Linked DNA regions of Homo sapiens. The gene in region 6 interacts genetically with the main gene of each other region. Each region holds a gene or a part of one and is shown on either strand. Other genes may lie near its edges. The genes, in order: MCM3AP, RINT1, PPP2R1A, CEP295, GET3, SEC22B and ASCC3.

Evidence for each region.
Region 1: changes in SEC22B (region 6) and MCM3AP together harm fitness more than expected from each alone (negative genetic interaction), as found in Homo sapiens cells (one large-scale study listed by BioGRID).
Region 2: changes in SEC22B (region 6) and RINT1 together harm fitness more than expected from each alone (negative genetic interaction), as found in Homo sapiens cells (one large-scale study listed by BioGRID).
Region 3: changes in SEC22B (region 6) and PPP2R1A together harm fitness more than expected from each alone (negative genetic interaction), as found in Homo sapiens cells (one large-scale study listed by BioGRID).
Region 4: changes in SEC22B (region 6) and CEP295 together harm fitness more than expected from each alone (negative genetic interaction), as found in Homo sapiens cells (one large-scale study listed by BioGRID).
Region 5: changes in SEC22B (region 6) and GET3 together harm fitness more than expected from each alone (negative genetic interaction), as found in Homo sapiens cells (one large-scale study listed by BioGRID).
Region 7: changes in SEC22B (region 6) and ASCC3 together harm fitness more than expected from each alone (negative genetic interaction), as found in Homo sapiens cells (one large-scale study listed by BioGRID).

What each region holds. Positions count from the first base shown.
Region 1 is NC_000021.9:46,234,274-46,238,383, forward strand, and holds the end of MCM3AP (germinal-center associated nuclear protein), read right to left. Parts: intron 2,707-4,110; coding exon 2,556-2,706; intron 2,054-2,555; exon of another isoform or gene 1,951-2,053; intron 1,154-1,950; coding exon 995-1,153; 3' UTR 860-994; downstream 1-859.
Region 2 is NC_000007.14:105,562,755-105,566,362, reverse strand, and holds part of RINT1 (RAD50-interacting protein 1), read right to left. Parts: intron 2,631-3,608; coding exon 2,416-2,630; intron 1,240-2,415; exon of another isoform or gene 1,087-1,239; coding exon 906-1,086; exon of another isoform or gene 834-905; coding exon 715-833; intron 41-714; exon of another isoform or gene 1-40. Other genes in the region: EFCAB10 (EF-hand calcium-binding domain-containing protein 10), read left to right, coding at 748-814. UniProt on the Homo sapiens protein: Involved in regulation of membrane traffic between the Golgi and the endoplasmic reticulum (ER); the function is proposed to depend on its association in the NRZ complex which is believed to play a role in SNARE assembly at the ER.
Region 3 is NC_000019.10:52,224,552-52,229,171, reverse strand, and holds part of PPP2R1A (serine/threonine-protein phosphatase 2A 65 kDa regulatory subunit A alpha isoform), read right to left. Parts: intron 3,456-4,620; coding exon 3,364-3,455; intron 3,208-3,363; coding exon 3,191-3,207; 3' UTR 1-3,190. UniProt on the Homo sapiens protein: The PR65 subunit of protein phosphatase 2A serves as a scaffolding molecule to coordinate the assembly of the catalytic subunit and a variable regulatory B subunit.
Region 4 is NC_000011.10:93,723,437-93,728,056, reverse strand, and holds part of CEP295 (centrosomal protein of 295 kDa), read right to left. Parts: intron 3,804-4,620; coding exon 3,682-3,803; intron 2,407-3,681; coding exon 2,226-2,406; intron 1,082-2,225; coding exon 420-1,081; intron 1-419. UniProt on the Homo sapiens protein: Centriole-enriched microtubule-binding protein involved in centriole biogenesis.
Region 5 is NC_000019.10:12,742,877-12,747,496, reverse strand, and holds part of GET3 (ATPase GET3), read right to left. Parts: intron 2,121-4,620; coding exon 1,972-2,120; intron 1,889-1,971; coding exon 1,738-1,888; intron 301-1,737; coding exon 193-300; intron 103-192; coding exon 1-102.
Region 6 is NC_000001.11:120,151,961-120,156,580, forward strand, and holds part of SEC22B (vesicle-trafficking protein SEC22b), read right to left. Parts: 3' UTR 1-4,620. UniProt on the Homo sapiens protein: SNARE involved in targeting and fusion of ER-derived transport vesicles with the Golgi complex as well as Golgi-derived retrograde transport vesicles with the ER.
Region 7 is NC_000006.12:100,507,082-100,511,519, forward strand, and holds the end of ASCC3 (activating signal cointegrator 1 complex subunit 3), read right to left. Parts: intron 3,027-4,438; coding exon 2,851-3,026; intron 2,453-2,850; coding exon 2,305-2,452; 3' UTR 1,113-2,304; downstream 1-1,112. UniProt on the Homo sapiens protein: ATPase involved both in DNA repair and rescue of stalled ribosomes. 3'-5' DNA helicase involved in repair of alkylated DNA: promotes DNA unwinding to generate single-stranded substrate needed for ALKBH3, enabling ALKBH3 to process alkylated N3-methylcytosine (3mC) within double-stranded regions.

The DNA.
Region 1 (4,110 bases), on a different chromosome or scaffold from region 6:
ATGATCTAAGAATGTTGGAGGTTTGAAGAGAATGAGAAGACATGAAATAGAGTCTGGGGATGTAGGATTACAGTCAGGAGATGCTGAGTGCCAGTTTAAGATTGGTGGTCATACGCAACATCACCAAGTCTATTAATACCTCTTTCTGTATATGGCTCAAATTTTATCCCCTCTCTTCACACCAATTGCTAACAAACTCACGCTTATTCCCTTTGAATTTCACCTGGATGGCTGCAGCACCCACCTCTCAAGATTCCTGCCCTACATGCCATTCTTAAAAGAAAATGTGACCAGATCACTTCTCTGCCTAATCTTCAACAACGGGTTCTCACAGCTCTCAGAAGAAGGTGACAAGAATCTCTGACCTCACCCTGCTGGCCTGTTCCCCTCACCTGGCCACACAACCAAGCTGGTACCTCCACGCTTTCATCATGTCCTCTCAAGTACACTGTCTCCAGCTACACCCCTGCACTCCTCTCCGGGAATTCTGTTTCTCCTCTACCCAACCAGACCCTGTTCCATCCTCTGTTTTTTCCTTGCTACCAATTCAGGCCCACGCCTCATGCACATTCTCTGAGAATTATGTACATAAGTACCTGACTCTCCTGGATGTAAGCTGGGTGGGCTTAGCAGGCAGAGGCCCTGTGTCTTACTTTATCTCTGCATCACTGATGTCTGGCACATCAAGGACTGCAAGTTTGCTGAGAGAATGAATCGCCTTTTATACATGGAAATGTAAGCTCTAAACTGCCTCAGAGCATATGCTGGTGGGTGACAATCTGAGGAGGTCATGAATATAGGAGAATATTGAAGAGGTCACACAGGGGAAACAACTTTTCATTATGAAAAACTGGGAGACTGACATTTAAATGGTTTATCTGCATGATTAAATTAATCACATTTCCAACAGTGCATCAAGCATCTGAGAATAACATTATTTTGAGTAAAAACAGAAACTCTTCGGGAGAGACCCCCTCCCCACAGGTCAGGCTGCTCAAATGTCCACCATGTCTAGCAGCGCAGAGAGATGGAGCTCAGAGGCAACTTCCTCTTCCCTTGAACTCCGGATCAGCCTTTCCAGGTGCTTTAGTCGTTCGCCTAGACACGTTCCTGTCGCCTCTGACAGCTGCAGTTGCTCCCTCATCATGTCACTCTATTTGAATAAAAAAGAAACTGAACAGTTTTGGGATGTCAATAAACCACGACCTATCTCTGGGAAGGTACTAGATCTGGATCATGTTAGAAACCTCATCTGAGTAGTCATTTATTTTTACAGAGGGAAAAAAATTATCCTTTGTATATCCTTCCAGCCTCATTTAGCTCGTACATTCAGCTGGTATCTGTATATAGACTGTTTGCCTTTGTATTCTATCATGAACAATTTCCAGTGTCAGTCATTTTTCACCCAGGCTGGAACGCAGTGGTATGATCGGAGCTTACTGCAGCCTCAAACTCCTGGGCTCAAGTGATCCTACCAGCTCAGCCTCCTGAGTAGCTGGGACAACAGGCATGTAGCACCATGCCTGGCTAATTATGTACTGTAGAGATGAGATCTCTTTATGTTGCCCAGGCTGGACTCAAGCTCCTGGACTTAAGCGATCCTCCCTCATCAGCCTCCCAAAGTGCTGGGATTACAGGCATGAGCCACCACGCCCAGCCAGTCATTTTTAGAAAATATCATCGTCAAGGGCTGTGAATTATTCTATCACATGAATGTGTTATAATTGTTTAATCAGACTCCCATCTTCGGATATTTATTCTGTTTCGACTTTCATACAATAATGCTACAGTAAACATTTTTATACATTAATTTTTGGGGAATATCTGGTAGGTCAGAATTCTTTAGGTTAGAATTGGTAATTCAAAGGGTATGAATATTTTTAAAGTATTTGCCAAACTGATGAATGGAAACAGTACATCATTTTAATTTGCTTTTCTCCTCTATTGAAGGACTTCCTAAAGCCAGTCCAGGAGCACAGTTTTTACCTGTTCAGTGGCACATATCTGTGATTGAAACTCTGTTTTTGCATCTTTAACCACTGAAGGAAGAATGGTAAGGTAAAAAGACCTTAGGCTTTGGAGCCAGTTGGATCTGGCTTTGAAAAGCAACCTGACCACTCACTACTTGAACACTCTTGGGTGAGGCTCTTGACTTCTGGGAGCTTACCTTCCTCATTCATTAGTTTTCCTCAGGAAAAATTAATCCCAGAAGAGAGGTCTGGGTAATGCCAAAGCTCAGACAATATGTGCTCCAACAGAAGCTGCTGTCATCACCTTAATGCCCTTAATTACACATCAGCACACAGTTACAGGTCTTATTCAGTTCTTAAGAATATTTCAATTCTATTCTTCATTTATTTCGTAGGCAGAAACTCAAAATCAGTTGGGTCTCTTTAACAATGATATGGATAAAGTTTAAGAAAAGGTCTAATTTGAGCTAATAATTTGTCGGTCATCAAAACATCATAGGATAAATCGTGATATTACTTTTTTCCCCAGCCATTCTCTCAATCTTTAATTCTTATGTAAATGCCAAATGTATACGTTCTTCTCACCTGTGGGCTAGTAGTTACAGATGTTTTCATCACAGGTTCAATAGTGTGAGAAAGAGACACTAGAGTCTGAGGAAGATAGAGGGGAAGGGAAGTTAAATCCGTAAATGCTCCTGAGTCTTCAGACAACCATTGCTGAAGCTGATCTTCAAACCTGAAACAATATGTAATAAATTCAAAAATATTTGAGCATTAGGAAGTTAACTATTGTTCATTAATCTTCTATATATACTTAAAAACTTTTTAAGCCTTTGCTTTTTTAAAATTTTATATAATTTTTTTTTTTTTTTTTTTGAGACAGAGTCTCACTCTGTTGCCCAGGCTGGAGTGCAGTGGCATAATCTCGGGTCAGTGCAACCTCTGCCTCCCAGGTTCAAGTGATTCTCCTGCGTCAGCCTCCTGAGTAGCTGGGATTATAGGCAAGTGCCACTGTGCCCAGCTAATTTTTTGTACTTTTAGTAGAGATGGGGTTTCACCATATTGCCCAAGCTGGTCTTGAACTCCTGACCTCAGGTGATCCACCCACCTCGGCCTCCCAAAGTGCTGGGATTACAGGAGTGAGCCACTGTGCTTGGCCAATTTTATTATTATTTTTTTTTGACAAGGTCTCGCTCTGTTGGCCAGGCCGGAGTGCAGTGTTACAATCTTGGCTCACTGCAACCTTGACCTCCCAAGCTCAAATGATCTCACCTCAGCCTCCCAAATACCTGGGACTAGAGGCGCATGCCACCCAGCTAATTTTTGTATTTTTTTGTAGAAACGGGATTTTGCTGTATTGTCAGGCTAGTCTACAACTCCTGAACTCAAGTGATGTGCACACCTCAGCCTCCCAAAGTGCTGGGATTATAGGCATGAGTCACCACACCCAGCCTTAAGCCTTTGCTTTTTACTAAGAATATAACTAAGTTATGACATCAACTGAGAAGCAGAAATGTACTTATTAAAAATTTAACAACTTCCTATGATAAAGCTTAATTTAAAAAAAAAAACTAGGCTGGGCTCGGTGGCTCATGCCTGTAATCCCAACACTTTGGGAGGCCGAGGCGGGCAGATCACCTGAGGTCAGGAGTTCAAGATCAGCCTGATCAACATGGTGAAACCCCGTCTCTACTAAAAATACAAAAATTAGCCAGGCATGGTGACACGTGCCTGTAATCCCAGCTACTTGGGAGGCTGAGGCAGGAGAACTGCCTGAACCCGGGAGGCGGAGGTTGCAGTGAGCCAGATCACGCCATTGCACTCCAGCCAGGGCAACAAGAGCAAAACTCCATCTCAAAAAAAAAAAAAAAAAAATTAGAGAAACCACTTCCCTTTAATTTATAAATCCAATTCCAATTTATATTTAATGAAAAAGGTGGTATTAATCCAAAAACAACTGCTTCGATGTGTTACTTAACATTACTTGTAATTGTCTTGTTTGGCTTATCTTATTTAATTTACTTTGGTTTTATGCATCTATAATTAATTCTTCTGACATTTTCCAAATGAGTGGATTGCTGCTTATAGCTTAAAATTAACTCAAAATAATATCCCACTGCCACCTAACATACTCTAGAGC
Region 2 (3,608 bases), on a different chromosome or scaffold from region 6:
TCAACAAATTCTGAAACTATAATTATATTTAGAACCAAAATTAATGTCAAATGTTTAAGGAAACAAATTTCTTTCAGGCCTGGCCTATTAGGTATTAAACATATTTGTAATTTTTTTTTTTTTTTGAGACAGTCTTGGCTCACTGCAAGCTCCGCCTCCCGGGTTCACATCATTCTCCTGCCTCAGCCTCCCAAGCAGGTGGGACTACAGGTGCCCGCCACCAGGCCTGGCTAATTTTTTTTTTTTTGGTATTTTTAGTAGAGATGGGGGTATCACTATGTTAGCCAGGATGGTCTCGATCTCCTGACTTTGTGATCTGCCCAACTCAGCCTCCCGAAGTGTTGGGATTACAGGCGTGAGCCACCACGCCCGGCCCTGTAATTTCTTATATTTAGTGAATAGGGCACAACTGTACTTGTTTTCATTTTCTATTTATTCCTCCAGTAACTAAGCAACTAGAAGCATTAAACCAAATACTAGAAAACAAAACCCAACAGGTAATTTATATCTAGTTCTGAAACTTTTTGAGGTCATGGGTCACATCTATCATCTTGGTTTCCCCATTGTGCTGTAAGCATACAGTAGATAGACAATGTTTTAAAATTTCAACTGATCTTATCCCACCCAAACATCTCCAGAACCCTAAAGTTAAAAGGAGTTAGCCTCCTGTAACAATTTGATACATTAATATTAATTGTTAAATGTTGAGCTTACTGTTTAAAATAATTTTCTGGTCTCTTGCAATAGTGAGAAAACAAAGGGAAAAGATTCCGAGTCATATCAAACTGCAGCTGGGCTGCTCCTCCTTCATTGAAGTGATTAGCAAGAATTATCTGAAACAAAGAATAATTCATATAACAGTTGTCTTTATTATCACAGCCCAAAAACAGTCTATTCTTACTTACTTCTTGGTAGATGTATACATCCAGCTTCTCTACAAGCATTTGCCAGAAAATTTTAAATAAGGAGAAACAAAGCTGCTGCTCCAACTGAAGTAAATGGTCTCGTAACGTCAGCAGCAACGGGCAAGCCGAACTGGACAGGGACATCACTGCCTGCTCTGACTGAGATGGCAAGGACAACCATCTGGAAAAAACACATTTTTACCAAAAAATTTTCATCAGTTTCTATTTTTCAAGTTTTTAAATCATTTTAAATTTGAGGAAGTGTTCTGTCCTAGGGCATTTTGGATAAGAAAAAATATACAGCCTAACATTAAAAGCTCTATCAGAAAATAAATGTACCTGTATTTATATTTTCACTCTCAAATACTCTTTAATATGGGGATATATCCAAAATATCCCCAAATTTTAATATGTGAATTACTGATATAAGGCAATTACAATTTAAAATGTCACTTAATTTTTGCATTTTATTTATGTAGTTTTTCTTTTTTTTTGAGACAGAGTCTCGCTCTGTTGGCCAGGCTAGAGCCACAGGGTTCAAGCAATTCTCGTGTCAGCCTCCCAAGTAGCTGGGATTACAGGTGCCCACCACCACGCCCAGCTAATCTTTGAATTTTTTAGTAGAGACAGGGTTTCGCCATGTTGGCCAGGCTAGTTTCGAATTGCTGCCCTCAAGTAATCTGCCCGCCTTGGCCTCCCAAAGTGCTGGGATTACAGGTGTGAGCCACTGCACCCAGCCTGATTTTAGCATTTTAATTAAGACATCAGCTAATATTATCCTCTAATTTTTAGTAAAAACAGGACTAATAAACGAATTTTAAGCACTCTGTGTGGCAGGGACTATGCTAGGACAAAAAGATACTGCTTGCTATCAAGGATGAAAGTAACACAGGTGTTCACAGTGAATGGTAGTGGGATAAACCACAACAAAAGTATGCAGAGTACCACAGGTGCACTTTACTTTGCAAAATGGGAGACAGGTTAGGCTATTCAACCCCAGATCACACACTATCCTATTGATATATTTACAAACAACTAAATTATAATCAGTTTATTCTGATTAAGAATGTCAGCCAGGTGTGGTGGCTCACACCTGTAATCCTAGCACTTTGGGAGGCCGAGGCAGGTGGCTTGCCTGAGGTCAGGAGTTGGAGATCAGCCTGCCCAAAATGTGAAACCACATCTCTACTAAAAATACAAAAATTAGCCTTGTGTGGTGGTGCATGCCTGTAGTCCTGGCTACTTGGGAGGCTGAGGTGGGAAGGTCACTTGAACCTCTAAGGCAGAGGTTGCAATGAGCCAAGATCGTGCAACTGCACTCCAGCCTGGGTGACAGAGTAGGACTGTCTCAAAAAAAATGTCCAAGAGAACATACTTTAGAAATATTTCCATCAACAATAAAGTACATAAGGCCAAACCGGGTTCTATCTAGACACCTTGAAAATCTGACCACATATTCTTTAACTTTTACCAAACTGGTGTTAAGAGCTGACTTACATAGAGGACATACCTTTCTTTTTTATACAATTTTGCAGCATCTTTAACTTCTCTAAAAACGTGGTCTACTTGACGGGTCAACATATCATGCTTTAAACGTTCTAAGAGGTTAATCATGTCATCAAAGACAGAGCTCTCCATAGAGGCTAGCTGTCCTAGCTGCAATTTACTCAGAGTATTATTCTCTGCAAACACCTCCAGTGCAGCCTGTTGAAGTTGTAGAAAGAACTGAAAGCAAAAACATGTTAACACATTAGCATACTTTTTTTTTAACAGTTTGAAATAGAATTCATATGTCATACAATTCACCCATTTAAAGTGTATAATTCGACCGGGCACGGTGGCTCATGCCTGTAATCCCAGCACTTTGGGAGGCTGAGGTGGGTGGATCACCTGAGGTCAGGAGTTCGAAACCATCCTGGCCAACATGGTGAAACTCCAACTCTACTAAAAATACAAAAATAAGCCGGGTGTGGTGGCATGTGCCTGTAATCCTAGCTTGAACCTGGAAGGTGGAAGTTGCAGTGAGCCGAGATCATGCCTCTGCACTCCAGCCTGGGCGACAAAGTGAGACTCCATCTCAAAACTAATAATAGTGTATAATTCAATGATTTTTTTATATATTCAGTTGTATATCCATCACAATTTTAGAACATTTTCATCACCAAGAAAAAAGCCGTTATCCTCTAATACCGTCTCCCCACTCCCTCAACTCATAGGCAACCACTAATTGACTTTCTGTCTCAATGGATTTGCCTGTTCTGGACATTTCATATAAATGAAATCATACAACGTATGGTTGGTTGTGACTGTCTTCTTTCAGTACATTTTCAAGGTCTATCCATATTGTAACACGTATCATATTGTAACACGTATCAGCACTTCATTTTTTTTACATTGCCAGGTAATATTCCATTATATAGATAGACCACATTTTATTTATCCATTCATCAGCTGGTGGACATTTGGGTAGCTTCTACTTTGTCTATTATGAACAAATGCTGCTGTGAACATTTTTGTACAAGTTTTTTTTGTTTTGTTTTTTTGTTTTTTGTTTTGAGACGGAATCTCGCTCTGTCACCCAGGCTGGAGTGCAGTGGGGTGATCTTGGCTGACTGCAGTCTCCGCCTCCCGGGTTCAAGCGATTCTCCTGCCTCAGTCTCCTAAGTACCTGGGATTACGGGCGTGTGCCAGCACACCTGGCTA
Region 3 (4,620 bases), on a different chromosome or scaffold from region 6:
TGTGCCCACACCAATTTTTTTAAATTTATGCCTCATGCCACCAGCTTGGGTAGATGAACCTGGCCTCCTTCCCTCCAGCCCTGATGGCCACAGGCAGAATCTTGTCGGTGCCCTGCAGTTCACTCCTCGGGGCTGAGGCACCACCTCGTCATCTTCATCTGCCCGGGGGAGCCATGGTAATTCTCCTCTAGCGACAACCACAGCTCAAGCACCATAGGCAGATTCTGCACCCTGAGTCAAGGGCATGGTGATTCTAGAGCTCTACTCGTGCCCCTATGCATTAGCCAAAGGCAACAAGTGACTCGACCTCATCCACATCCAGATGTCTGGGTCAATGCAGTGGAAGGAAGGGGTCAGTGAAGAGGCTGTTGGCAAAAACAGCCAAAGAAGTGCAGTCATCACAAAAGGAGACAAAATTTGTGTGTGGGCTCTGAAGAACAGTGCTGTGGAAGGAACCATTAGAGATGGCCAGTGTGACTGCTGGGATTTAGGCCTAGAGAGCGGGAGAAACAGGCCAGGGTCATGAGTCCTGGCTCCACACAGTCTCTCCACCCTGACCCAGCTCCAGCATCAAACTTCAGCTGCTACAGAGAAGGCCAGGTGTATGGAGCAAACAAAGCCTGCAGCCTGGGAGATTAGGAACCACTCCTAACAATGGACTTAATAACATCACATTCATCACCTGATTGGATTCTTCCAACATGAAGCTCACAGAAGGTGAGTTACCTCAGTCCGTTCTCCTGAGAGCACTCCCTCAGTAACACACTTGAACGAGTCTCCACTCGGGCTCTGCTTCTAGAGCACATGACCCAAGACACCAGGCAACTCCTGGTTAACTCAGGACTCTGCCAGCGTTCAATAACTCAAGCTATCCTTCACCCTCGTCTCTCATACTCACTCCTGTGGTCGCTGAGTATCACCTCATTACCCAGCACATCCTGGGTATCCATCGCACCTCCACCTCCTGTAATAATCCCATTCCATCACTTGCCCAATCTAGCAGCCTCAACATATCCCTGAGCCTTGTCTACATACACATGTCCAATTGTAGACCCCACCTCTGAGCCATAGCACATCCTCAGCCCTAGACCCACGTAGCATTAACCTCACTCTCAAGAGAGAAAAACTGGGTTAGTATTTAAGGCAGGACTTCTCTAACTTCAGTGTGCAGATGAACCTGGGCATCTTGTTAAAATGAAGGCTCTGCCTGAGCAGGTCGGGGCAGGGACGAGAGGCTCTGCATTTCTAACAAGCTCCTGAGAATGCAAAGGCTGCTGGTCCACTGCACTCTTGTTACAATGGACCAGCAGCGTTAACCATGGGGAAAGTCAAAGTTTAATGTCAGACTTTGACGTTTGGTTACACGTGTGTTCACATTTCTAGAGCAGTAGTTCTCAACTGGGAGAGAGTTTATCGCCCAGGGCATAAATGGAAATTTCTAAAGATGCTTTTTGGTCTCCTTCAGCCTCATCCCCTAGGGCACAATAAAGTCTAACAAAGGGTAGGGATGTGGTAATATGAAGGCTGAGCTGGTGAAATCACCTTGTCACTCAAAGCCACATTTCCCTTCCACCACCTGGGTCAAAATGTGCTCAAGCATCATTTCCTCTGTGAAACCCTTCCATGCAGACACCACCAGCCATACGTCCCTTGCTCCTTTCTCCAGGGTGCTCTGGGCCCCTCCCTCCATCAGTTAGAATTCCGGTCACCTTCAAGTGATGAAACCCTAAACGAACAGGCACTTGACCAGTTTAATTCTCCCAGGTGACAGTACTGGCATGGCTCTTCACAGCCTCGGGGAGGCAGGCTCCTTCTCTCTTGTCCTGCCTTACTTGACCTTCACGCCTAAGATCATTTTCTGGCCCCAGGTGGCAGCTCCTACTCCAGCCATCTGGTCCACATTCCAGAGTGCAGGAAGGAGGAAAGGTGGGGGATGACGCCTTCCCCCTTAAGAACACTTCCTAGAAGCTGCATATACCACTTCTGTTCAACATCTTTTTGGCTAGAATTTGGTCACAATACCACACCTAATTTCAAGAGACACTAGGAAAATACCTTGAATCCATGTAGTCATCTGCCCAGTTAAAAATCAGAGCTTCTACATTAGGAAGGGGAGAATAGATACCGAGATAACTGATCTATCTTGCCACAGTTCTCTCCCTAGTACCGTCCTGATTACTCTGAGACCTCCTGGGGACAGGGTCCAAGCCCAAGTCTTCTTCAAGAACACAGGAAATGGCCCACAGGGGGTTCTCTGGCAATGTACAGCTAACTCTGCTTCTCATGTTGTGTACTTCTCATGTTGAAACTGTTACACACTTTCCAGGTACTAATTCACTTGGTCCTCGCCACCCACCCTGCAATCTAGGTATTACTGTAACTCTCATTTTACACAATACAAAACTGAGCTCATAAAGACTTAACAAGCTACTCCTAGTCACACGTCTATTAACTGAAGGAGCCACAATTTGGACCCAGGCAGTCTGGTTCCAAGGCACCTGCTCTTAACCCCCCAAATACTCGGCCGACATCTATGAATCTGAACTGCACTACAGGACACCACCCAGAGCACCTCATGGACCCTCTACCCCAAAGGCCAGCAGCACTCCTGGGGGGATCCCCAGAGTATTCTTTCGGGACATAGGGGTATAATGGGTCCTGTAACAAGATCTTCTCCAGAGAAAAGCGCAGATGTTGTGGCTCTGGGGTGGTGCCCCCTCCTCCAAGCTGATGACTAAGGCCAGAGGACCAACTACTTCTAGACCTTTATTTCTCTGTGAAAAGGGGGAAAATAAAAGGAATAAAATAAAAACGGCACAGTTGACACACAAAAAAAAACCAATGATGGGGAGGACGGGAGGTGGAGAAGTAAATGGGGGAGGGGTTCCCATTACAGCAGCAGGATCCAGTGACCCGGGATGCTCACATCTCTCCCTGACGTGGGCGGAGTAGCCCCTTCCTCCCAAGGTCACTGTCCTGTCCAACCCCGTGCTCCCCTAGCCCGTTGGGAGGTGGACAGTGAGACATCTTCCCAGGCTGGGGAGAGGAGGAACCGTGCTGGGGGAAGGGGCCTGGGGTCAGACCATGCACAGGGAGTGACAGCCAAAGGCCCCCCAGTGTCTCCCCAAAGAGGGACTTGTGGGGGTTGGAGGGTGGACACCAGAGGCCAGTGTTTGCTCCTCTTCCAGCATCAGGCGAGAGACAGAACTAGGAAAACAGGAACAGGCAAGAATCAGAACCAGAGCCCTCTCTCTGCCCACAATGCCAAGGTACCTCCCCCTCCCAGAAGCTGCTGCCCACAGGCCCAGTGCCTGTCCTCAAAGTCCACCCTCCTGCTAGGGCTCCGTGCTTTCTAGGTCTTACCAGTCAGAGCCTCCTGGGCAAAGTATTTGACGTCCACATCCTGGTCCTGGGTCAGCTTCTCTAGGATGGGCTTGACTTCACTCTGCAAGGTGCTGGAAAGCGAAAGGAGACAGGGAGAGAGAGGGTGAGCCAGGATGGACTGGGGCAACAGGTGGGCACAGGGCTCTTGGGCAAGAGAGTGTACACAGACACGGATACACCAAACCCAAGGTGGGAGGAGTCTCAAGAATCCAGGGCACACACAGGAATTAGAAATCTCTGATCACTGCACAGGCGGGTGACCATAGTTAATAATAACATTTTGCATATTTCAAAACAGCTATAAGAGAAGATTTTGAATGTTCTCATCACAAAGAAACAGTAAACATTTAAGGTGATAGATATGCTAATTATCCTAATTTGATCATTACACATTTGCACACATTATTGAAACACTACTATACCCCCATAAATATATAAAATTATGAGTCAATTAAAAGTAAAATCAGGCCGGACGTGGTGGCTCACATCTGTAATCCCAGCATTTTGGGAGGCCAAGGTGGGTGGATCATCTGAGGTTGGGAGTTTGAGACCAGCCTGGCCAAACCAACATGGAGAAACCCTGTCCCTACTAAAAACACAAAATTAGCAGGGCGTGGTGGTGCACGCCTGTGATCCCAGCTACTTGGGAGGCTGAGGCAGGAGAATTGCTGGAACCTGGGAGGCGGAGGTTGTGGTGAGCCAAGATTGCATCATTGCACTCCAGCCTGGGCAACAAGAGCGAAACTCCGTCTCAAAAAAAAAAAAAAAAAAAAAAAGGTAAACTCAAGGCCGAGCACGGGGGCTCAAGCCTGTAATCCTAGCACTTTGGGACGCCAAGGTGGGCAGACCACTTGAGGCCAGGAGTTCAAGACCAGCCTGGACAACATGGGAAAACCCCCATCTCTACTCAAAGTACAAAAATTAGCCAAGCATGGTGGTGCACACTTGTAATCCCAGCTACTTGAAAGGCTGAGGCACAAGAACTGCCTGAACCCAGGAGGCAGAGGTTGCAGTGAGCCGAGATCGCACCACTGTACTCCAGTCTGGGCGACAGAGCGAGATTCTGCCTCAAAGGAAAACCAAACAAACTGCAAAAAACCAACCAACCAACCAATTACTTAAAGGTCAGAAGTATGATAAACAAGGACTGGGGCCCCAAACAGGGAGATCAGAGCAGGCTGGGAAAGTGGAACAGAATCTCAGAACCCCCAAGTCTCTGAGGCCCAGCAAATGGGT
Region 4 (4,620 bases), on a different chromosome or scaffold from region 6:
TTGCACTGGAATGAGGCTCAACACTGAAAGTGCTGAAGCACAGGCAGAACCACCATTTTTCAGGGAAGTTGGAGAAAGGATATCTGAATTGGGAGAAAAAGGATCTTTTGTAAAATACTCTCAGAAGACAGTTTTCAAATTTTTAAGTTTCTGCATTATGCTGGATATTTCTAGTGATCACAAGCTGGATAGCAATATTAACAAGCAGTTTTGCTTGTATTTTGTTTCAGGTTTTTCCTGCCAGGCATTGTGGTGTGTCCAAACTACTTCGGAAGTTGAGGCAGGAGGATCCCTTGATCCTAGGAGTTTGAGTTCAGCCTGGGTAGCATAGTGGGAACTTCATCTCTAATTTTAGAAGAAAAAAGTTTTTTCCCAAAAAGGAATTTAAATGTTATTTATACAACACTGATTTCACTTACCCAGACTGGTATAGAGCTCTGTAATGAAAATGATCCAGAACTTGCAAAAAGCTCTGATTCTCCTAGTTGAGATAGTTTTTTGGTGATTTTTGGAATGTCTGTTTCAGCTGAATTCTCAAAATATTTTTCATTTTGAGTAGTTAAGGAATATGGTGCCTGAATTGAAGTTCCCATCTCCACTGTTCTTACACATAATCGAGAGTCAGTTTCCTCTACCTGTGGATTTATGTCTAAAACCCTACAGGTTTCATTTTTATTATCTTCAATGAGTCCTTGACTTTGTAACATTGTAACAACCCCTCTTTTTGATAGTTCTTCAAAGCCCATACTTTCCTTTCTGCTTTCTAGTTGGTGTTTTGTTGAGCACTCACTAGAGTTAGAACCACATGGAGTGCTATGCTGTACATTTAACTGATCAAATACATTAGCTTCATCAGATGAACTGTAGACTGAACTTAAGTTTCCTATAGAAAGCTGGAAATGAACAATTTTTTTCTTGTTTTGTAATATTTCAGTATGTTCTTCAGAGGGATAGTTCTGATTTTTCATGCCTTGGGAAGAATCTCTTGCTTCAATGCTAAAAATACTTGGTAGATCAGCATGCTGGCTCTCCTCCTGTGAAGAATATTCTGGCTGAAGCTGTTCAAAACATTGTTCAGATCCTGCATTAAGAAATTCAAAAATCAGTTAATCATCGTTACATGTTGTAAAAGTTGGATACTGACAGTCTCTAATAGTTTATCATCCAATTGCAAGTAACCTACAATTTTAGGCATAAAAGTTGATGTGTATAAACATGAATACAAAGATAAGGATGGTCACAGTGATTTCTCAAACTACAGCTCACACCAAGTATTTTTTCTTTTTCTATTAATATTTAATAAGGACAATATGGCTATAAACTGAGGATGTTTTCCTCTATAAGAACTGAATATGACTTTAATAACAGAAAAGAGAATAAAGCATCCATGTGTATCTCAATTATCCATGTGTGTATATATAATTTGTACATCCTTGTGTATCTCATGTATGTTTGTGTGTATATATAATCATTTGTACCAAAGGCTCAAGAATACTTGTTTTCTATGTTGCCCAGGCTGGTCTTGAACTCCTGGGCTCCAGGGATCCTCCTGCCGCAGCTTCCCAAAGTGCTAGGATTACAGGCGTGAGCCACTATACTTGGCCTAAGAAGAATACTTAAACTGGCTGGGCATGGTGGCTCACACCTGTAATCCCAGCACTTTGGGAGGCCAAGACGAGTGGATCATCTGAGGTCGGGAGTTCTAGACCAGCCTGACCAACATAGTGAAACCCTGTCTATACTAAAAATAGAAAATTAGCTGGGTGTGGTGGCACATGCCTGTAATCCCAGCTACTTGGGAGGCTGAGTGAGGCAGGAGAATCACTTGAACCCAGCAGGCGGAGGTTGCAGTGAGCCAAGATTGCACCACTGCACTCCAGCCTGGGCAACAAGAGTGAAACTCAGTCTTCAAAAACAAAATAAAAACAAAAACAAAAACAAAAAAAACAAACAAAAAAATAATACTTAAACTGTTAACTATCACATAATGATTGAGGTAGGGAAATTGAGGAACAAGAGGCAACACTTTTCCTTTTATTTCATAATGTTCAGTATTGTTTAAAAAAATGCATGTATTACTTCTGTAATTTAAATATTTTTTAACACCCAGGATAGGGGTGAGAGCAGGGGTGAAGACAAACCAAGAGGTGCTAGGCTTAATTTCTAAGGAAATGGATGTAAAAAATCATGGAAAAATTAACTTTTTCTAACTTAGTCATACATACCCCCAATAATATTTTCTGTAGCAAAACTGTGAGCTCCAACATGAGCCAAGTTAGTGTCAGGTTGTTGATTCGGACTTGTGTTAAGAGAAGAATGCATGCTGGTCCTCCTCAGTGCTGTGAAATAAACTGTACTTTTGGATAATCCAGTAGCACAGTGGCTTTCAGATGAAGAATCTGATCTCTGGCAGGAAACAAAAGGGAAAGGCTGAAATACTGATTAGGTATTAACAATTGAAACAATAATCATTGTGTTCCTTTGGTATTACTCTTCCTTAATTATCACTTCACTATGACAGCAATGATTTGCTTTTTCAAATCCAGTTCTTTTCAATCAATATGAAAGAGACTTTAAAATGTCAGGCCATCAGGAAGTGGAAGCAAAAAGACTCAGGTTTAAATCTCAGCTCCTTTGACTGTGTAGGAGGATACTTTAAATTTTGCAAAATTGTATTTACTTTACTGTTTAAATATGTTCCACAACTAAAAGTTGTTATTAAGCCTTTTATGGCATCATACTCCCTAGGTGGAGACAGGTGGATGGGACAAACAAAATTCTAATGTAGCTGTTTTCCTTTTTTTTTTTTTGAGATGGGGTCTCACTATGTTGTCCAGGCTGGAGTGCAGTGGCACGATCTCGGCTCACTGCAACCTCTGCCTCCCAGGTTCAAGCGGTTCTCAGCCTCCCGAGTAGCTGGGACTACAGGCATGCCATCACACCCAACTAATTTTTGTGTTTTTTAGTAGAGATGGGATTTCACCATGTTGGCCAGGCTGATCTCAAACTCCTGGCCTCAAGCAATCCACCTGCCTCAGACTCCCAAAGTGCTGGGATTACAGGCATGAGCCACCGCACCCGGCCCAATGCAGCTGTTTTCAAAGTTGGTTCCACATTAGAATCACTTGGGGAGCTTAAAAAATAATAATAATAATTAGTACTATCTGAGCACTCCCAGAAACTCTGCTTTAATTGGTCTAGGGTGTAGTCTGGACAATAGGATTTATTTTTATTTTTTATTTAAGTTTTCCATGTGATTCTTTTTGTTTGTTTGTTTGTTTCTTTTTTTAAAGACAGGGTCTGGCTCTGTCACCCAGACTGGAGTGTAGTGGCACGATCTCAGCTCACTGCAGCCTCCACCTCCTGGGCTCAAGTGGTCCTCCCACCTCAGCCTCCCGAGTAGCTGGGACTACAGGTGCGCACCACGACACCTGGCTAATTTTTGTATTTTCAGTAGAGACAGGGTTTTGCCATGTTGGCCAGGCTGGTCTCGAACTCTTGGCCTCAAGTAATCTGCCCGCCTTGGGCTCTCAAAGTGCTGGGATTACAGGTGTGAGCCACTGTGCCCAGACTTCCATGTGATTCTAGGTAAGGGTTTAGAAGAACTTTTGTTCCAGTAGAAGAAATGGCTTAAAACTATTTTTAGATATTCACTGCAATGGGACATCTACTTTAATATACCTGGTAAAAGTCTCTGTTGTCTGGAGAAATCCCAGAGGATGATGATGATAAGTCAAAATCTGGATGTGGTTCTAAGGGTTTAAACAGCTGATGATGCAAATTAGGAAAAATGTGTTCCAATTCTGGAAAGTCAAGGTCAACTGTTAGAATTTTTGAGGGAAAAAAATCATAAATTTATTTTTAAGGTAAACACTAGAAAAGGAGTATTAAGAACATATTCATAAACGCTTATTTTCAGGTAACTCCAGTGTAACAAAAACTTCAGTTTTTCCCCCATGATCAGCAGATGCTTTAAAGTTAAGTCCTATCATGATTATTTCAAAGGTCCAAAATATGGATCCTCTCAGTGACCAAAACTTTTTAAGTTTTATTTTTAGAGAAATTTAATTTTTTTAAATTTAAAAAATTTTTTTTTAAAATAGAGATGGGGTCTCAGTGTTGCCCAGGCTGGTCTTGAAATCCTGGGCTCAAGCAATCCTCCTGCCTCAGCCTCCCAAAGTGCTACGATTACAGGTATGAACAAACTTTTGACAAATACGAATTTCCATTTCCACAGCCTTATGAGGCTAATGAGGATCAACAGGACATATGTAACCACTGCTTCAGTATAAGCTTAAAAAAGGAAAAAGGCTCACTGTATTCAGTGTTACTATGGGCCAGACATTGTGCTTTATGTGCACTATCTCATTTAATCTATAATATTCCTCTTTTATAAAAGATTAAAAAGTAACTTGCCCATGGTTTTACAGCTAGGAAATGGTCAGGCTATGACTCAAATCCAGAACTGTATGATTTCTGAGCTCCTGCTCTTATTTATCAGTAATACCGCCTCAGCCGTAATAGCTAACTCTGCAATGGCAAAGGAAGATTTGCTAATTAATCTCCTATAAATGTGCCTCAGTGAGTCTAATTGGTTCCAGATCCCCTTTCTCACTAAAT
Region 5 (4,620 bases), on a different chromosome or scaffold from region 6:
GTGTGTGTCAATCTTGCACTTGGCCAGCTCCTGGATCAGCCTCTCTGTCTCATACAGGGACAGGAACTCAGCAATGCATACGCAGATGAAAGTTGTCTGCTCCTACAGGGCACGAGAGAGGACAGTGAGGGGCGGGGTCTGCCCCTGTCCTCAGCCCCCGGGCCTCTCACCGCCAGCCAGACCACCACTCACAGGGTCCTTGAACTGTTCGCTGACTGAGCGGATGACGGGCAGCGTCTCCTCCAGCTTGGAGGCCAGCTGGTCTGCGTTCATGTCCCCCAGGCCCAGCATGTTGCACATCTGCAGGGGGGATGTGGGAGGGCTCATAGCTTACCTGCGGCGACCTCCTGGGTTGGGGGTTCACTAAACACCCGAGGGATGACTCCTGATACCTCCCAGTGGTTAAAGGCTCAGGCCCATAAGCAGATTCCTGGGGTTGGTCAAATACTAGCTTTTCCATTTCTTTCTTTCTTTTTTTTTTTTTTTTGAAATGGAGTCTCACTCTGTTGCCCAGGCTGGAGTACAATGGCGTGATTTTGGCTCACTGCAACCGCCGCCTCCTGGGTTCAAGCGATTCTCCTGCCTCAGCCTCTTGAGTAGCTGGGATTACAGGCGCGCACCACCATGCCCGGCTAATTTTTGTATTTTTAGTACTGGTGGGGTTTCACCATTTTGGCCAGGCTGGTCTTGAACTCCTGACCTCAGGCAATCCACCTGCCTCGGCCTTGCGAAGTCCTAGGATTACAGGCATGAGCCACTGCGGCCGGCCTCAGCTTTGCCATTTTTAGGGAACCATAGCTAAGGGGCTTGACCCTCCTGGAGCCTCAGTTTCCCCATCTCTAAACTTTACCTCCCAGATCTGTTGTACCAGATGAGCTGAAGCATATAATGTGCTGAGAATAGTGTCTGGCACACAGTAAGTGCTCAGTGTTACCACCTGAGGCACAGGTCCCCACAGGGGACACGCACACACCCACACGTGCACATACACCATGGTGGGTGGTGCTGGTGGTGTGCAGCACTGTGGGGGCTTTAGGGTTGTCATCGTAATAATAACCCATGGGGGCTGGGCACAGTGGCTCATGCCTGTAATCCCAGCACTCTGGGAGGTCGAAGTGGGTGTACTGCTTGAGGCCAGGAGTTCAAGACCAGCCTGGGCAACATGGCAAAACCCTATCTCTACAAAAAGTACAAAAATTAGCTGGGCATGGTGGTACATGTCTGTAGTCCCAGCTACTTGGGAGGTAGAGGCACGAGAATCACTTGAACCCACGAGGTGGAGGTTGCAATGAGCCAAGATCGCACCACTGCACTCCAGCCTGGGTGACAGAGCGAGACTCCGTCTCGAATAATAATAATAATAACCCATGGGGCACTCTCATGATCTCCATTTGCAAGACAAGGAAGGTGAGGCCCAGAGAGGTGAAGTGATTTGCTTGAGGTCACACAGCAGTTGGGTCACATGGTGAGTGTAGAGGGTTTGAAGGCAGGTTGCCTGGTTCTGGAATGTGCTTTCTGGCTCTGTCTAGGGTATTTAGCGGGCAGGGGCAGGGACACTGAGTCCTGCCTGTGGGGGAGGAAAGACAGCTCCGTCCCATCCCCTCCAGGGAGAAGTCCAGAGTGAGAAGGGGTGGGAAGGAAAGGGAATTGTTAGTGCGCATTTGAGGGTCTGGGGGCCCGGGCCTACTCCCACTCCCGGCTGCCTGGATGGTGCAGGTGGGGGCCCCCGCCGCCTGCCTGTGAGATGAAAGGGCTGATCTGGTTCTTGATCTGCATAAGCCGGCCCAGGCCCCGCTCCACGATGGTGGGGAAGTTGAGCAGCCTCAGGGTGTGGCCCGTGGGTGCCGTGTCAAATACCACCACCGAGAAGTTCATGCCCTTCACCAGCCTGAGGGGAGACAGGGGTCAGGCCCTCTGTGTCCGCTCTTCCCCTTCCCCAGGCAGCCCCCACCCCTGCTGGCTGGGCCTGACCTCATGACCTCGGCATAGCTCATGGCCTCATCGATGCCGGGAAATGCGCTCATGGCCTCCTGCATCATCTTCTTGCCCATGCTCAGCATGTTGTCCTCCTCGAAGAACTCGTCAGGCAGCTCCGCCACGCCCAGGCTGGGGTCAATCTCCTGGGGGCCAAAGGGATGAGACTGAGGTTGCTGCTACTGCTGGGGGAGCCTTCCCACCTGGGCACAGGGCCAGGGGGAGCCTTCCTACCCGGGCACAGGGCCAGAGGGAGCCTGTGGTGGGCTGTGACCACAGGCATTTCATTAGGTCACGGCTGGGGGGACCCTGAGGTAGTACTTAGGGTTTTGTATGGTTGCATAAAGGGTCAAAAACAAGGGGAAAATTGCAAGCTGTGCCCAGGGCCCTCAAAGGGAAGCTGAAACCCACTGCGGGCCATTTACACTGCTACTCCCCACTTGCAACCTGCCACTTGCAACCCCAGATACTCCCATGACTGGGCCATGACCTCTTCCGGATCATCATCCCTCCACTGAGAGACTCCCTGACCACCCTAAGTAACAGCACAGATCCACCGACACCCCTGCCCTGCCTTCCTTTCTCCTTAAGGTTTAGCCCTTAGGAGCTGGGCAGGATAGCTCACGCCTGTAGTCCCAGGTACTCAGGAGAATGAGATGGGAGGATCGCTTGAGCCCAGGAGTTGGACACCAGCCTGGGCAATATAGCAAGACCTATCTGAAAAAAAAATTAGCCCTTCCTCACATCCCTCATGATTCCCTTATCATGTTTATCATCTGTCTCCATAGCAGGAATGTCTGCCCCTCAGGGGCAGGGGTTTTACCATCTAGTTCACTGCTGTGTCCTTAGCGCTTAGCATGAACAGTGCCTGGCACAGAGGTCGTCAGCACATATGGGGAATCCAGCCAGGCGCGGTACCTCATGCCTGTAATTCCAGCCCTTTGGGAAGCGGAGGCGGGCAGATCACCTGAGGTCGGGAGCTTGAGGCCAGCCTGGCCAACATGGTGAAACCCCGTCTCTACTAAAAATACAAAAATTAGCCATGCATAGTGGCGGGTGCCTATAATCCCAGCTACTCTGGAGGTTGAGGCAGGGGAATCGCTTGAACCCGGGAGGCAGAGGTTACAGTGAGCCGAGATCACGCCATTACACTCCAGCCTGGGTGACAGAGGGAGACTCTGTCTCAAAAAACAAACAACAAAACAAAACACAAACATGTATGTAGAATCTATGAAGGGATGGCCATGGCTGGGGTCCCTGGCCAGTCTCAGACTCAATGCCTCCCTCTTTTTTTTTTTTTTTTCCCGAGATGGAGTTTTGATCTTGTTGCCTAGGCTGGAGTGCAGTGGCGCGATCTCAGCTCATCACAACCTCCACCTTCTGGGTTCAAGCAATTCTCCTGCCTCAGCCTCCCGAGTAGCTGAGACTATAGGCATGCCCCACCATGCCTGGCTAATTTTTTTTTTTTTTTTTTTTTTTGAGATGGAGTCTTGGCCGGGCGTGGTGGCTCACGCCTGTAATCCCAGCACTTTGGGAGGCCGAGGCAGGCAGATCACCTGAGGTTAGGAGATCGAGACCATCCTGGCTAACACGGTGAAACCCCGTCTCTACTAAAAATACAAAAAATTAGCCGGGCGAGGTGGCGGGTGCCTGTAGTCCCAGCTACTTGGGAGGCTGAGGCAGGAGAATGGCATGAACCCCAGGGGGCGGAGCCTGCAGTGAGCTGAGATCACGCCACTGCACTCCAGCCTGGGCGACAGAGCGAGACTCCATCTCAAAAAAAAAAAAAAAAAAAAAAAAGAGATGGAGTCTCGCTCTGTCACCCAGGCTGGAGTGCAGTGAGTAGCTGGGACTACAGGCGCCCGCCACCACACCTGGCTAATTTTTTGTATTTTTAGTAGAGACGGGGTTTCACTGTGTTAGCCAGGATGGTGGCGATCTCCTGACCTCGTGATCCACCCACCTCGGCCTCCCAAAGTGCTGGGATTACAGGCACGAGCCATCACGCCTGGCCATGCCTGGCTAATTTTTGTAATTTTTTTTTTTTCTGAGATGGAGTTTCACTCTTGTTGTCTAGGCTGGACAATGGCGTGATCTTGGCTCACTGCAACCTCCGCCTCCAGGGTTCAAGTGATTCTCCTGCCTCAGCTTCCTGAGTAGCTGGGATTACAGGCATGCGCCACCACCCCAGCTAATTTTGTATTTTTAGTAGAGACGGGGCTTCTCTATGTTGGTCAGGCTGGTTTTCAACTCCCAACCTCAGGTGATCCACCCACCTCAGCCTCCCAAAATGCTGGGATTACAGGTATGAGCCACCATGCCCGGCCAATGCCTCCCTCTTTATCTTCCTCCTCTGTCACCTCTTCTTGGTAACTTCATGGGTCCCATGGGGAAGTACCCAACTCGCTGGCCTTAGGGGTCATTCCCTGTTGGGGAGCTTGCCCACTCATCACTGCACCCTCTTCTTATGCTTCATATATTTTAAGCTTCTTTGGACTACTTCATCCCCTCACCTGGCCCCTGTAAACTGTCAGTGTTCCTCTTGGCTGGCACCCTTATCCAGCCCAGCCTCCACAGGTTCCCTCTGCAAACACTCCCTTTCCCCTTGCTGTTGGCAAAATCCCCCACTCTGGTTACTTCCAGCTT
Region 6 (4,620 bases):
TATAAGAAGCAGCACAGGTTTGGTTTTATCTTTGAGAACAATGGAGTGGAGGTATGCTTTAGATGCAATTATTTATGGGATATTCAAAACAGATATATATGAAGCAAAAAACTTGGGCCCAAAAAACAAGTTTGAAGGTATATTTGGGAGTTACCAGTAATATAGGTAACTGTTGAAGCTCTAAATATAGAAGACAAACTAGAGGAGCTTGTTTCTTGAAGAATTCTTGTCACACTTGACATTTTTTACAGAGATTTCTTAAAACAGGGGCATATCTTCTTTGGCTAACATATGCAGACTAAAATGAAAGAGTATAGTATATTATAAAATCAATAAAAGGTAAGATAAATTTAGGCCTAAAAATAAAGAATAAATACACTCAGTTGATTCTGAAGCTCTAATTTACAGATGCAAAATTGTACCAGTACATTAACTCATATGTCAAAACAACATCTAGAGAAACAAAAAATGAAAGTAAAATGGAAAAAGATAAAAGAAGTGAGGCAAGGAGAAGAGAATGGACAAAAGGAGATAGGAAAAACAGGAATTTTTTTTTTAAGGGCTAAAATTTTAGTGAATCAGATGTGGAAAACAGTTGGATTAACATTGAGATCAAATGAGAAAGGAGCAAATAAGGAAAGAGGTATTACAAACCAAGAGTAAAAAAGGGAAAACAAAATAACAAAAGCAAAAACTATTTAAAAAGAATAAAGGAAGACGTGATAATGAAGTAAATTTAAAAAGTACGGAATAATAAAAAGAAATTGCAAAAAATAACTTTTGAAAATAAACATACTAATAACTTGACAATAAAGTGAAATGTGTAAGACAAACGTATCTGTGTCATTATTTAGGAGTAGTGAAAAGTACTCTTAAATAATAATTTGGTATCTAGCAGGCCTGGATTTGAATCTACTTTAACTTGCTAGCTATGTGACCTTGGGCAAGCAAAGAAACTCCTCATAACCATTGTAATAATACCAGCAAAATGCCTTACACTTACGGCTCAAAAAATGAAGGAAATGAGAGAAAAAAGTATAGATTACTATATGGAAGTCAAATTTCTAGTGACTTTTCTAATCCAAACATGAATTGTTACAGTACTTGAAATAAACTTTATGAGAACTGAGTGACTACATTGCTTCAGATAGTTTTATACTGCTAGGTCAACGCTGCCTGACAGTAATAAGAATAGGATGTGAGATTCAATATGCTCATTCTATCTCAAACTCTGTCACACATACAATGACTGCTATTTACCTTCCTCCTGAGCCATCTGGGAAAAAACCAACCAACCAACCAACCAAACAAAAGAAAAACCCACCAGGTAGGAGTCAGTTAGTTCTGCTAACTAACTAACCAAAAACCTTAATTGTATGGCCATCAGCACCCTAGCCCTTTGTCATGAAAGCTACCAATAAGGTGGAAATTTAAAATATGAGATATTTTATTATACATGTTTTATTAAACCCTATATGTGCAGAAATGATTGTCCATTTTCCTTCTTAACTTGCTTTTGTAAGACTTATTAAGTAGAAAATATAAATCTCAAGCTCCTTAAATGTGATTTTGAGGAACTGAGACCAAAACAATTTTTTGCTGTGGAACCAGATCCTTGAATGCACTACAGGAAAATATTATTTGATATGAAATTTTTTTGGTACACACAATTTTTCAAAAATATATCTCTCTCCACAAAGTTAATTCAAATTGTAGAATTCTTCCAAGTCACAGATGGAGTTTTCAAGGCTCTGGGTACTTACCTTTGAGTTCCACATCCTTTATCTCTGGAGCTCTTAACTGAGGGAACATGGACCATTAGGTCATGAACAGACTTTGTAGTCTTTGAACAGCCTGAAACAGTATGTGATACTTGATGTGCATGTACACAGGAACATTTTTCTAGAGTAATGGCACATACCTTTCATCAGATTTTCAAAGGTTTCTCAAAATGCTCAAGAACCATTGTTAGATATTTAAATAACCAGAGTGTACAGTGTCCAAATATTTCCAAATTTTGACACTTGTAAGATGTCTTAATTAAAACAAGCCATGAAGTTCAGCGTCACAATAACCAGAAAAGCACTTGTGAGAGTAGTTCTATGTCTTTACTTCCTAGTGGTTTACACACTCTTTAACCCATATGGCAATCTGGCTTCTGTCTCCAGTGCTCTGGAATTACTTCTGCCTGTATGATTAAGTTCCTCATTGTTAAATTCGAAAATACATTCTTTGGTATTTATTTGACCTCTTGGTGGTAATATAGCGTAAGAGCACAGACTCTGGAGCCAAACTGCCTAGGTTCAAATCTTAGCTCTATTACTTTCTAACTCTGTGACTTTGGGCAAATGACTTAACTCTCTCATGCCTCAAAGCAGAATCCTTTGTAAGGTTTATTTATATAGTGGTGTAAAGAGTACTTACTTCAAAAGCTTTGGTCAGTGTGAGAAATAAGCTCCTAACAAAGAAAGTGTTATGTAATAGTTATTATCTGGTACCTCTGATCACAACATTTTTGAAAATCACTTGAAATCTGCCTAAGTTTCATTCTGCCTTTGATGGCTCCTTATTTTCATCTCCCTACTTCAGGCTTCCTCCCTAATATATCTTTTATGCCAATATTATGATCACTTGAAACTATAAATCTGATGCCATCCTTGGCCACTACCATTAAGATGGTCTAAACTCCTCAGCATGATAGACAAGTCCCTTTATGATAGTGTACCCATCTAGTTCTCATTCCTCAAGTCTCCTCTGTTGTCTATGCTTACCCTATGGGCTAAGCTGAATCAAGCTGTTACATTTCCAAAATATGCCTCACTGTCTTTATTCATGCCTTTGCACATGCCATTGACTCTTCCTAGAATGCCCCATTCTCCTTCTCTAGAAAGTCTTCTCTTAACATACTTCTTCCCAAAATAAATTAGGTGTCCTTTCTTAATATGCCTCCAATAACCCCATACAGTATTTATCCCATTCTATTTTAGATGCCAGTTTGGTTGATGATACATTTCATCTAGTCAGATCTTCCCACTGCCTCTTATAAAGAAAACCAGGAGCCATATTATGATATTCTTGTTCTCTAATTTTTCTGCTGCCCTGATCTTAAACCACTTTCTTCTCCCTTTGTTGACAATTACCCCACCCCTTATTTCTTAATTAGCCCAACAAGATTAGATAGAAATGTATCTACAAAGGATATATGTATATAAATTAACTAGATAACAAAACTTCACACTGAAGTGAACATTCTACAAGTATTTATTTCATTGCTGACCATTAGGTTGCAGCATGCAACTCTCAACAATGAGCTGCCCCTCTCCACTCCTATAGAAGCTCCAAATACTATGGTACCACTATGTAGGTTTTCAGCCTTTCAAAGGCTTTTATTATTAACATCATCATTACTTCAGCAGGAGCCTTTTAGGGACTTAAAAGCACTGATTATCTATAAAAAGTAACTTCATATTTCATGCACAAAATTCCCAATTGGCAGATTTAGGTCCATAAAAGAAAGGAAAAAAATTATTCTAGTTATATAAATTATCAGGAATAAAATAGCATTTCTCCTTGCCTTGTTATAAGGAAATAATATATTTTTCCTTACCAGGAATCAGGATAGTATCTTTGATGATCCCTCAGGGTTATAAAATTGCTTACTGGTTAAAGTTTTTTGCCAAAGATATTAAGAAATAAAAAGTTCGCTCATTTTCCTGTGCAATTTAAAGAAATATTTGCAGTATGTACAGGAATTTTAAGTTATATTGCAGACCCTGGCAATAATATTTAAAAGGCCTATTTTCCCCATTAAAAAATTCTACCTCAGAAGGTAAAAGGAAATCTCCATCATCCCTGAGCAGAAAAGGAAAAAATCATGGGTACTTTAATTAGTTAATAGAAACCACTGTAAATGAGTTATCTATCTCCAGAACATTCTCAGAGAATTTACACGAACTAAAACAGGAATGAAGTGCTCTCAGAGACTTTTTCTCAGGTAAATGTATTTAGTAGTTTGAGTAGTTGATCTGCAAAAACTTTAACTTTAATTAACTACATAGATGAATATTTTTTATTTTGAAATTTGAGAATGTCCTAAGAGGATGTCTACAGGATATGAAACTACTGGGTGCAGGAAAATTTTTTAAATGTTAGCAAATTGTGGCAAGAGGAAAACAAACAGTGGAGAAAACTGTGGTAGAGAAAGTAAAGAAGGGGCAGGAGAAAGCTGTAATTATAACCTGGGCCTGCCTTTGTTCTCATGAAGCCAGGGGCCTCTCCATATCCTATACTTGCTCTTACGCTAATAACAAACCAAATGCTGCAAAATAAAAGTAATAATGACCCAAACTAATTTAAGTCTTTTGTTTAAGGAGTAAATGAGAGAAACATTTTAGCTTCTTAATCAAGGAGTGCTATAATTTCAAGGCATCTTAATATAATTCACTTACCCTAAAGCAATTGTGCAATAAGCAAATTATAAAAGGAAAACAACAAAGGTTAACTTTCTACAGGGGCCAATAGACAAGATCTGTGGAGCACAGCAATTAACCTTCACATACTGGAGTCTTGTTTAAAAGGCCATCAAAAACTCAGATTACTGAAAATCACAAATGTCACCAA
Region 7 (4,438 bases), on a different chromosome or scaffold from region 6:
ATCTTAAAAACAGCCTAAATGTCGCTTCATGATTTTTCTAAGTAATATTTTACCTCTGAACTCCCATAGCATTTCCCCCCATCACTAGTATTAGTGCAATTTTTTTATTATAATTATGACATCTTGTCAACCCCAGGCTACCCTTTGTGAAGGCAGGATATGTTTCTGATTCATGTGGGTATCAGAATACTCAACACAGTGCCTACAACAAATCCTTGACTGGAACTTCAATTATTTTGAGTTGATAAACTCCAGAGAAATATGAAATGACCTGCCATGAAAACAGAGTTGTATAGTGTGATAGCCAGCCCAGAGGTGCATGTTCTGAGATAAGTGGGCTGTGGTGTGGGTACATCAGTTAAGAAAGCACTTTATAATACAGCCCTGAAACCTTTTTATCACAATATTTCTCTTCACGAAAACAAAACCATCCAAGACACTTTAGAACAAATGCATTCTCTCAATAATCAGCATTTGGAATTATTTTAAACACTGGGAAAATTCTTGGCCACTAAAAAAGTTATAAGAAGTGAATGACTTGCAGATATGTAAATAGTAGTACTAATCTGAATATGTTGGCATATATTCTAAGACACATTTAACACTACAATTTTTGTTGAGTAATGAGTGTGGATAAAGTTGTAGATAGTGTCGGTCACTCATTGGAATAAGATTAACTTAAATTTGTCACATTATTTCTCTTCTCTCTAAAGGGGACAACAGAAATACTTTCTTATTGTTCCTATGTCCTGTGTCGTATGTCCAGTGAAGGAGACTCCCCAAGTTGGCTTGCTCGCTAACAAAAAGGAATGATGTTGGTAAACATGGAATCAGTGAGATTGTTACTCCTCAGGTTCCTGTATGGACTGGTGATTGTTATCTATATATAATCTCCATTTTCTTTTAATTCTACTAAAACAGTGGTTAAGATATAAATTCCAATTAGGTAATAAACTTTGCCAAAGAAAAAACAGAGAGAACTCTTTATATGAAGTAAATTTCTCAGACTAGAGTAATTGGGACACCTCATTCTCACTATACTTGGTTTGCTCACAATAGTTATTTCGATTTAATTTTTGGGAAGTGAATAACTGGTTCCCCTGCAACCTACATTTATTTCTTCTTCTTTTTTATTTAAGCATGGAAAAGGATATATACAAGCAATACATTCCAATTTCAGAAACACTTAAATTCTAGTATTTGTAACAATGACATTGGAAAATGTTTTAAAATAATTCATTTTAGGGCTAAGAAAACTGAAATTATTTCACAAAGGTAGAATTTCATTCCACTAGAATGCATATTATATGAACATTGAATTTTAACAAGTTTTTAGTTTGAAAAAGTATTTTTCAAGAAGGAATTTGTTTGGACATAGAGAAATTTTCTTTATTACAGGTGAAAACCTATCCATAGGGGTGAAAAATTTTCTGTCTCAGATTTTTCCTGGAGAGCATAAAGACAAATAATTGTACTATATGATCTGTAAGTGCTACAACATGAATTAGATTATACTTCTCTACTTCTGTAAATAAATATGTCAGAAAGATAATAGAAATAAAGCCTTGAAGTAGAAGGGAAAGAAAAGAAGAACAGATGAGTAAGGGGATATTATTTAAAGGAAGCAGAAGAAAACATTGAGTCAGCTTGTCTTGAAGTGCCACTCTATATTTTATTTCCCAGTTAACCATGTCTACATTTTCTAAGATCAGTATATTGTTTTCTTTGTTATCATCATTAGGCTCCATAATATAATTTTACATCATATATTATTAAACATTTATGACTACAAGAAATTCTTGAAGCTACTTCTACATGTGATCATATCAAAGTATAAATTTTGCTAACAAGACACGCTGTGTACCACCTTACAGATTTATAGTTTATGCGGCAGAGTTAGAAATCTGTGACAAGTCCTAACACTTGTCACATCTCAATGTGGTTTTCCTTAAAAAAAGCAGCCAATATCCATGTAAACAGTACATTGTGAGATGTAAAATTTGATTGATAGCTCCTAAATATCATCCCAAATATACACAAATTAAAAGATTATTCTAAATGCTTTTTCATCTTACATATCAAGAAACTCATAAAGATAACATTATAAAAGGCAACATTTGTTAAAAGGCCACTGTGGTTAACTTTATGTCACTGGAGTCAATACTGCAGCCACTGTCAATTTCCTGGATGGTTGAGGTTAGAAGTTGATTCTTTCAAGGCAAACATCAAGTAATTCGATTTGTCTAGATGACTGAACAGAGAGAATTCTTAGCCACTCCTTTCAAATGGATTGTTCAGGTCAAGTTACTTTAATGCCAGGTCAGTCAGGGAATCAGAGACCTTGGTGTTGACCTGTGCAGAAAGACTCGCTTGTGTAACGTTGAGATAGATGTCATACTGCTGGTCCAGGCCAAGGTAGCAGTCACTCATGAAATATAATGTGTAGATATACCTAAAATATAAAAATAGAAGAAAAATGTAAAACCACTTTTGTAATCACAATCATATTTAATTCTTTCAGAACTTTGGTAGTAGGAGGCTGGGTGCGGTGGCTCACGCCTGTAATCCCAGCACTTTGGGAGGCCGAGGCGGGCGGATCACGAGGTCAGGAGATGGAGACCACGGTGAAACCCCGTCTCTACTAAAAATACAAAAAATTAGCCGGGCGCAGTGGCGGGCGCCTGTAGTCCCAGCTACTCGGGAGGCTGAGGCAGGAGAATGGCGTGAACCCGGGAGGCGGAGCTTGCAGTGAGCAGAGATCGCGCCACTGCACTCCAGCCTGGGCGACAGAGCGAGACTCCGCCTCAAAAAAAAAAAAAAAGAGAACTTTGGTAGTAGGATTCTTCTTACCTTCCAGGTATTTCAGGGGTATAAAAAGAAAGGGAAGCAACATGATGATTTCGAATATATCCTACTCTTTTCAAAGCAATAAGTTCTCTCTTATCCACTTCTCCTAATATCAAAAACCATCCTTCGTCTTTTGATTTGGGAAATCGAGGAGTAACTGCACAGCTCTCTGGCTTTCCCTGTAAACCAGAAAAAAAGATACAACATTAAAAATATCTAGACTTCCTATACCACTTGGTTGTGGTTAAGGCTACGTTGTCTTACTTGAAGGCCATACATCTACATAGTTCAGCATATCTATCTGAGATGTTTTAAATTTTCTTCCATTCTGGTTTGGTGTCTTTGATATGCAATTATTTAACTTACTTCAAGATTCTCAGAGCATATTATAGACACTAGTTCGTAGTTGTAACTATCAGAATATATGGCCAGTTAGAATAAAAAACTCTGGATCTTGACATCAAATTAGCAAATTCTCATGCTATTCCTACAATTAACTTTAATACCACATTGGTAGATGAACAAATTGAGACATAACCATGTTAATCAAATCTTCCAAAACCTTATTCACCAAAAACGAATGCTTAAGAAAACAAACAAACAAACAAAAACACAAAGCCAATCAAGACTAGACTCTGGACCCCAAGATGATGAGTACTATATCAAACACATACTTTCCCCCTCATCCAAGAATAAAACTCACATAAAAAAGCACATATTCTAATATGGTAACATTAAAAAGTCCCTTCTCTGAGGAATGGGCAATTTTAAGTCAAGCAATTTGTAAAATATATTAATCACCACAATCCAAAATTAGATATAAATATAATGATCGCACTTGAGGTCTTTATTTTAGATCAATTTTTATAAAATGCAAGATTATTCTAATGATTCTTTAAGACAATGACTTTATGGCATAAAATATAGTAATAATGATACATTCTCAGACTTCACTCAGTATTCTAGAGGGAGATGTTTCACTTACAGTATTTCAAAAGGGAGTCAGAGAGTAATATATTTTTACAGCATTCAGAAACAAAAATTAAGAGATTTTCTGGCATGATTAAATCTAAGCTTTAAGTAGAATATTAAGGTAAAAAAATCATAGTTTTCCCCCATGATTTTATCTTTATGATTGTTGCTATTTTTATTATTACTATTATTAGTTTGTAATTATTACTTTTTTTTATAAGTTGGAATACATTAAGTCATCTAAAAAATGCTCATATTGCCAGGTGCAGTGGGTCACGCCTGTAATCCCAACACTTTGGGAGGCCAAGGCAGGTGGATCACCTGAGGTCAGGAGTTTGAGACCAGCCTGGCCAACATAATACAAAAAATTAGCTGGGTATGGTGGCAGGCACCTGTAATCCCAGTTACTCGGGATGCTGAGGAAGGAGAATTGCTTAAACCCGGGAGGCGGAGGTTGCAGGGAGCTGATGTTGCACCCTTGTACTCCAGCCTGGATAACATAAGTGAAATTCCATCTCAAACAAACAAACAAATGAAACCTCATATTAAGGTCAGGTGTGGTGGCTCATGCTGGTAATCCCAGAACTTTGGGAGGCAGAGGCAGGTGGATCATTTGAGG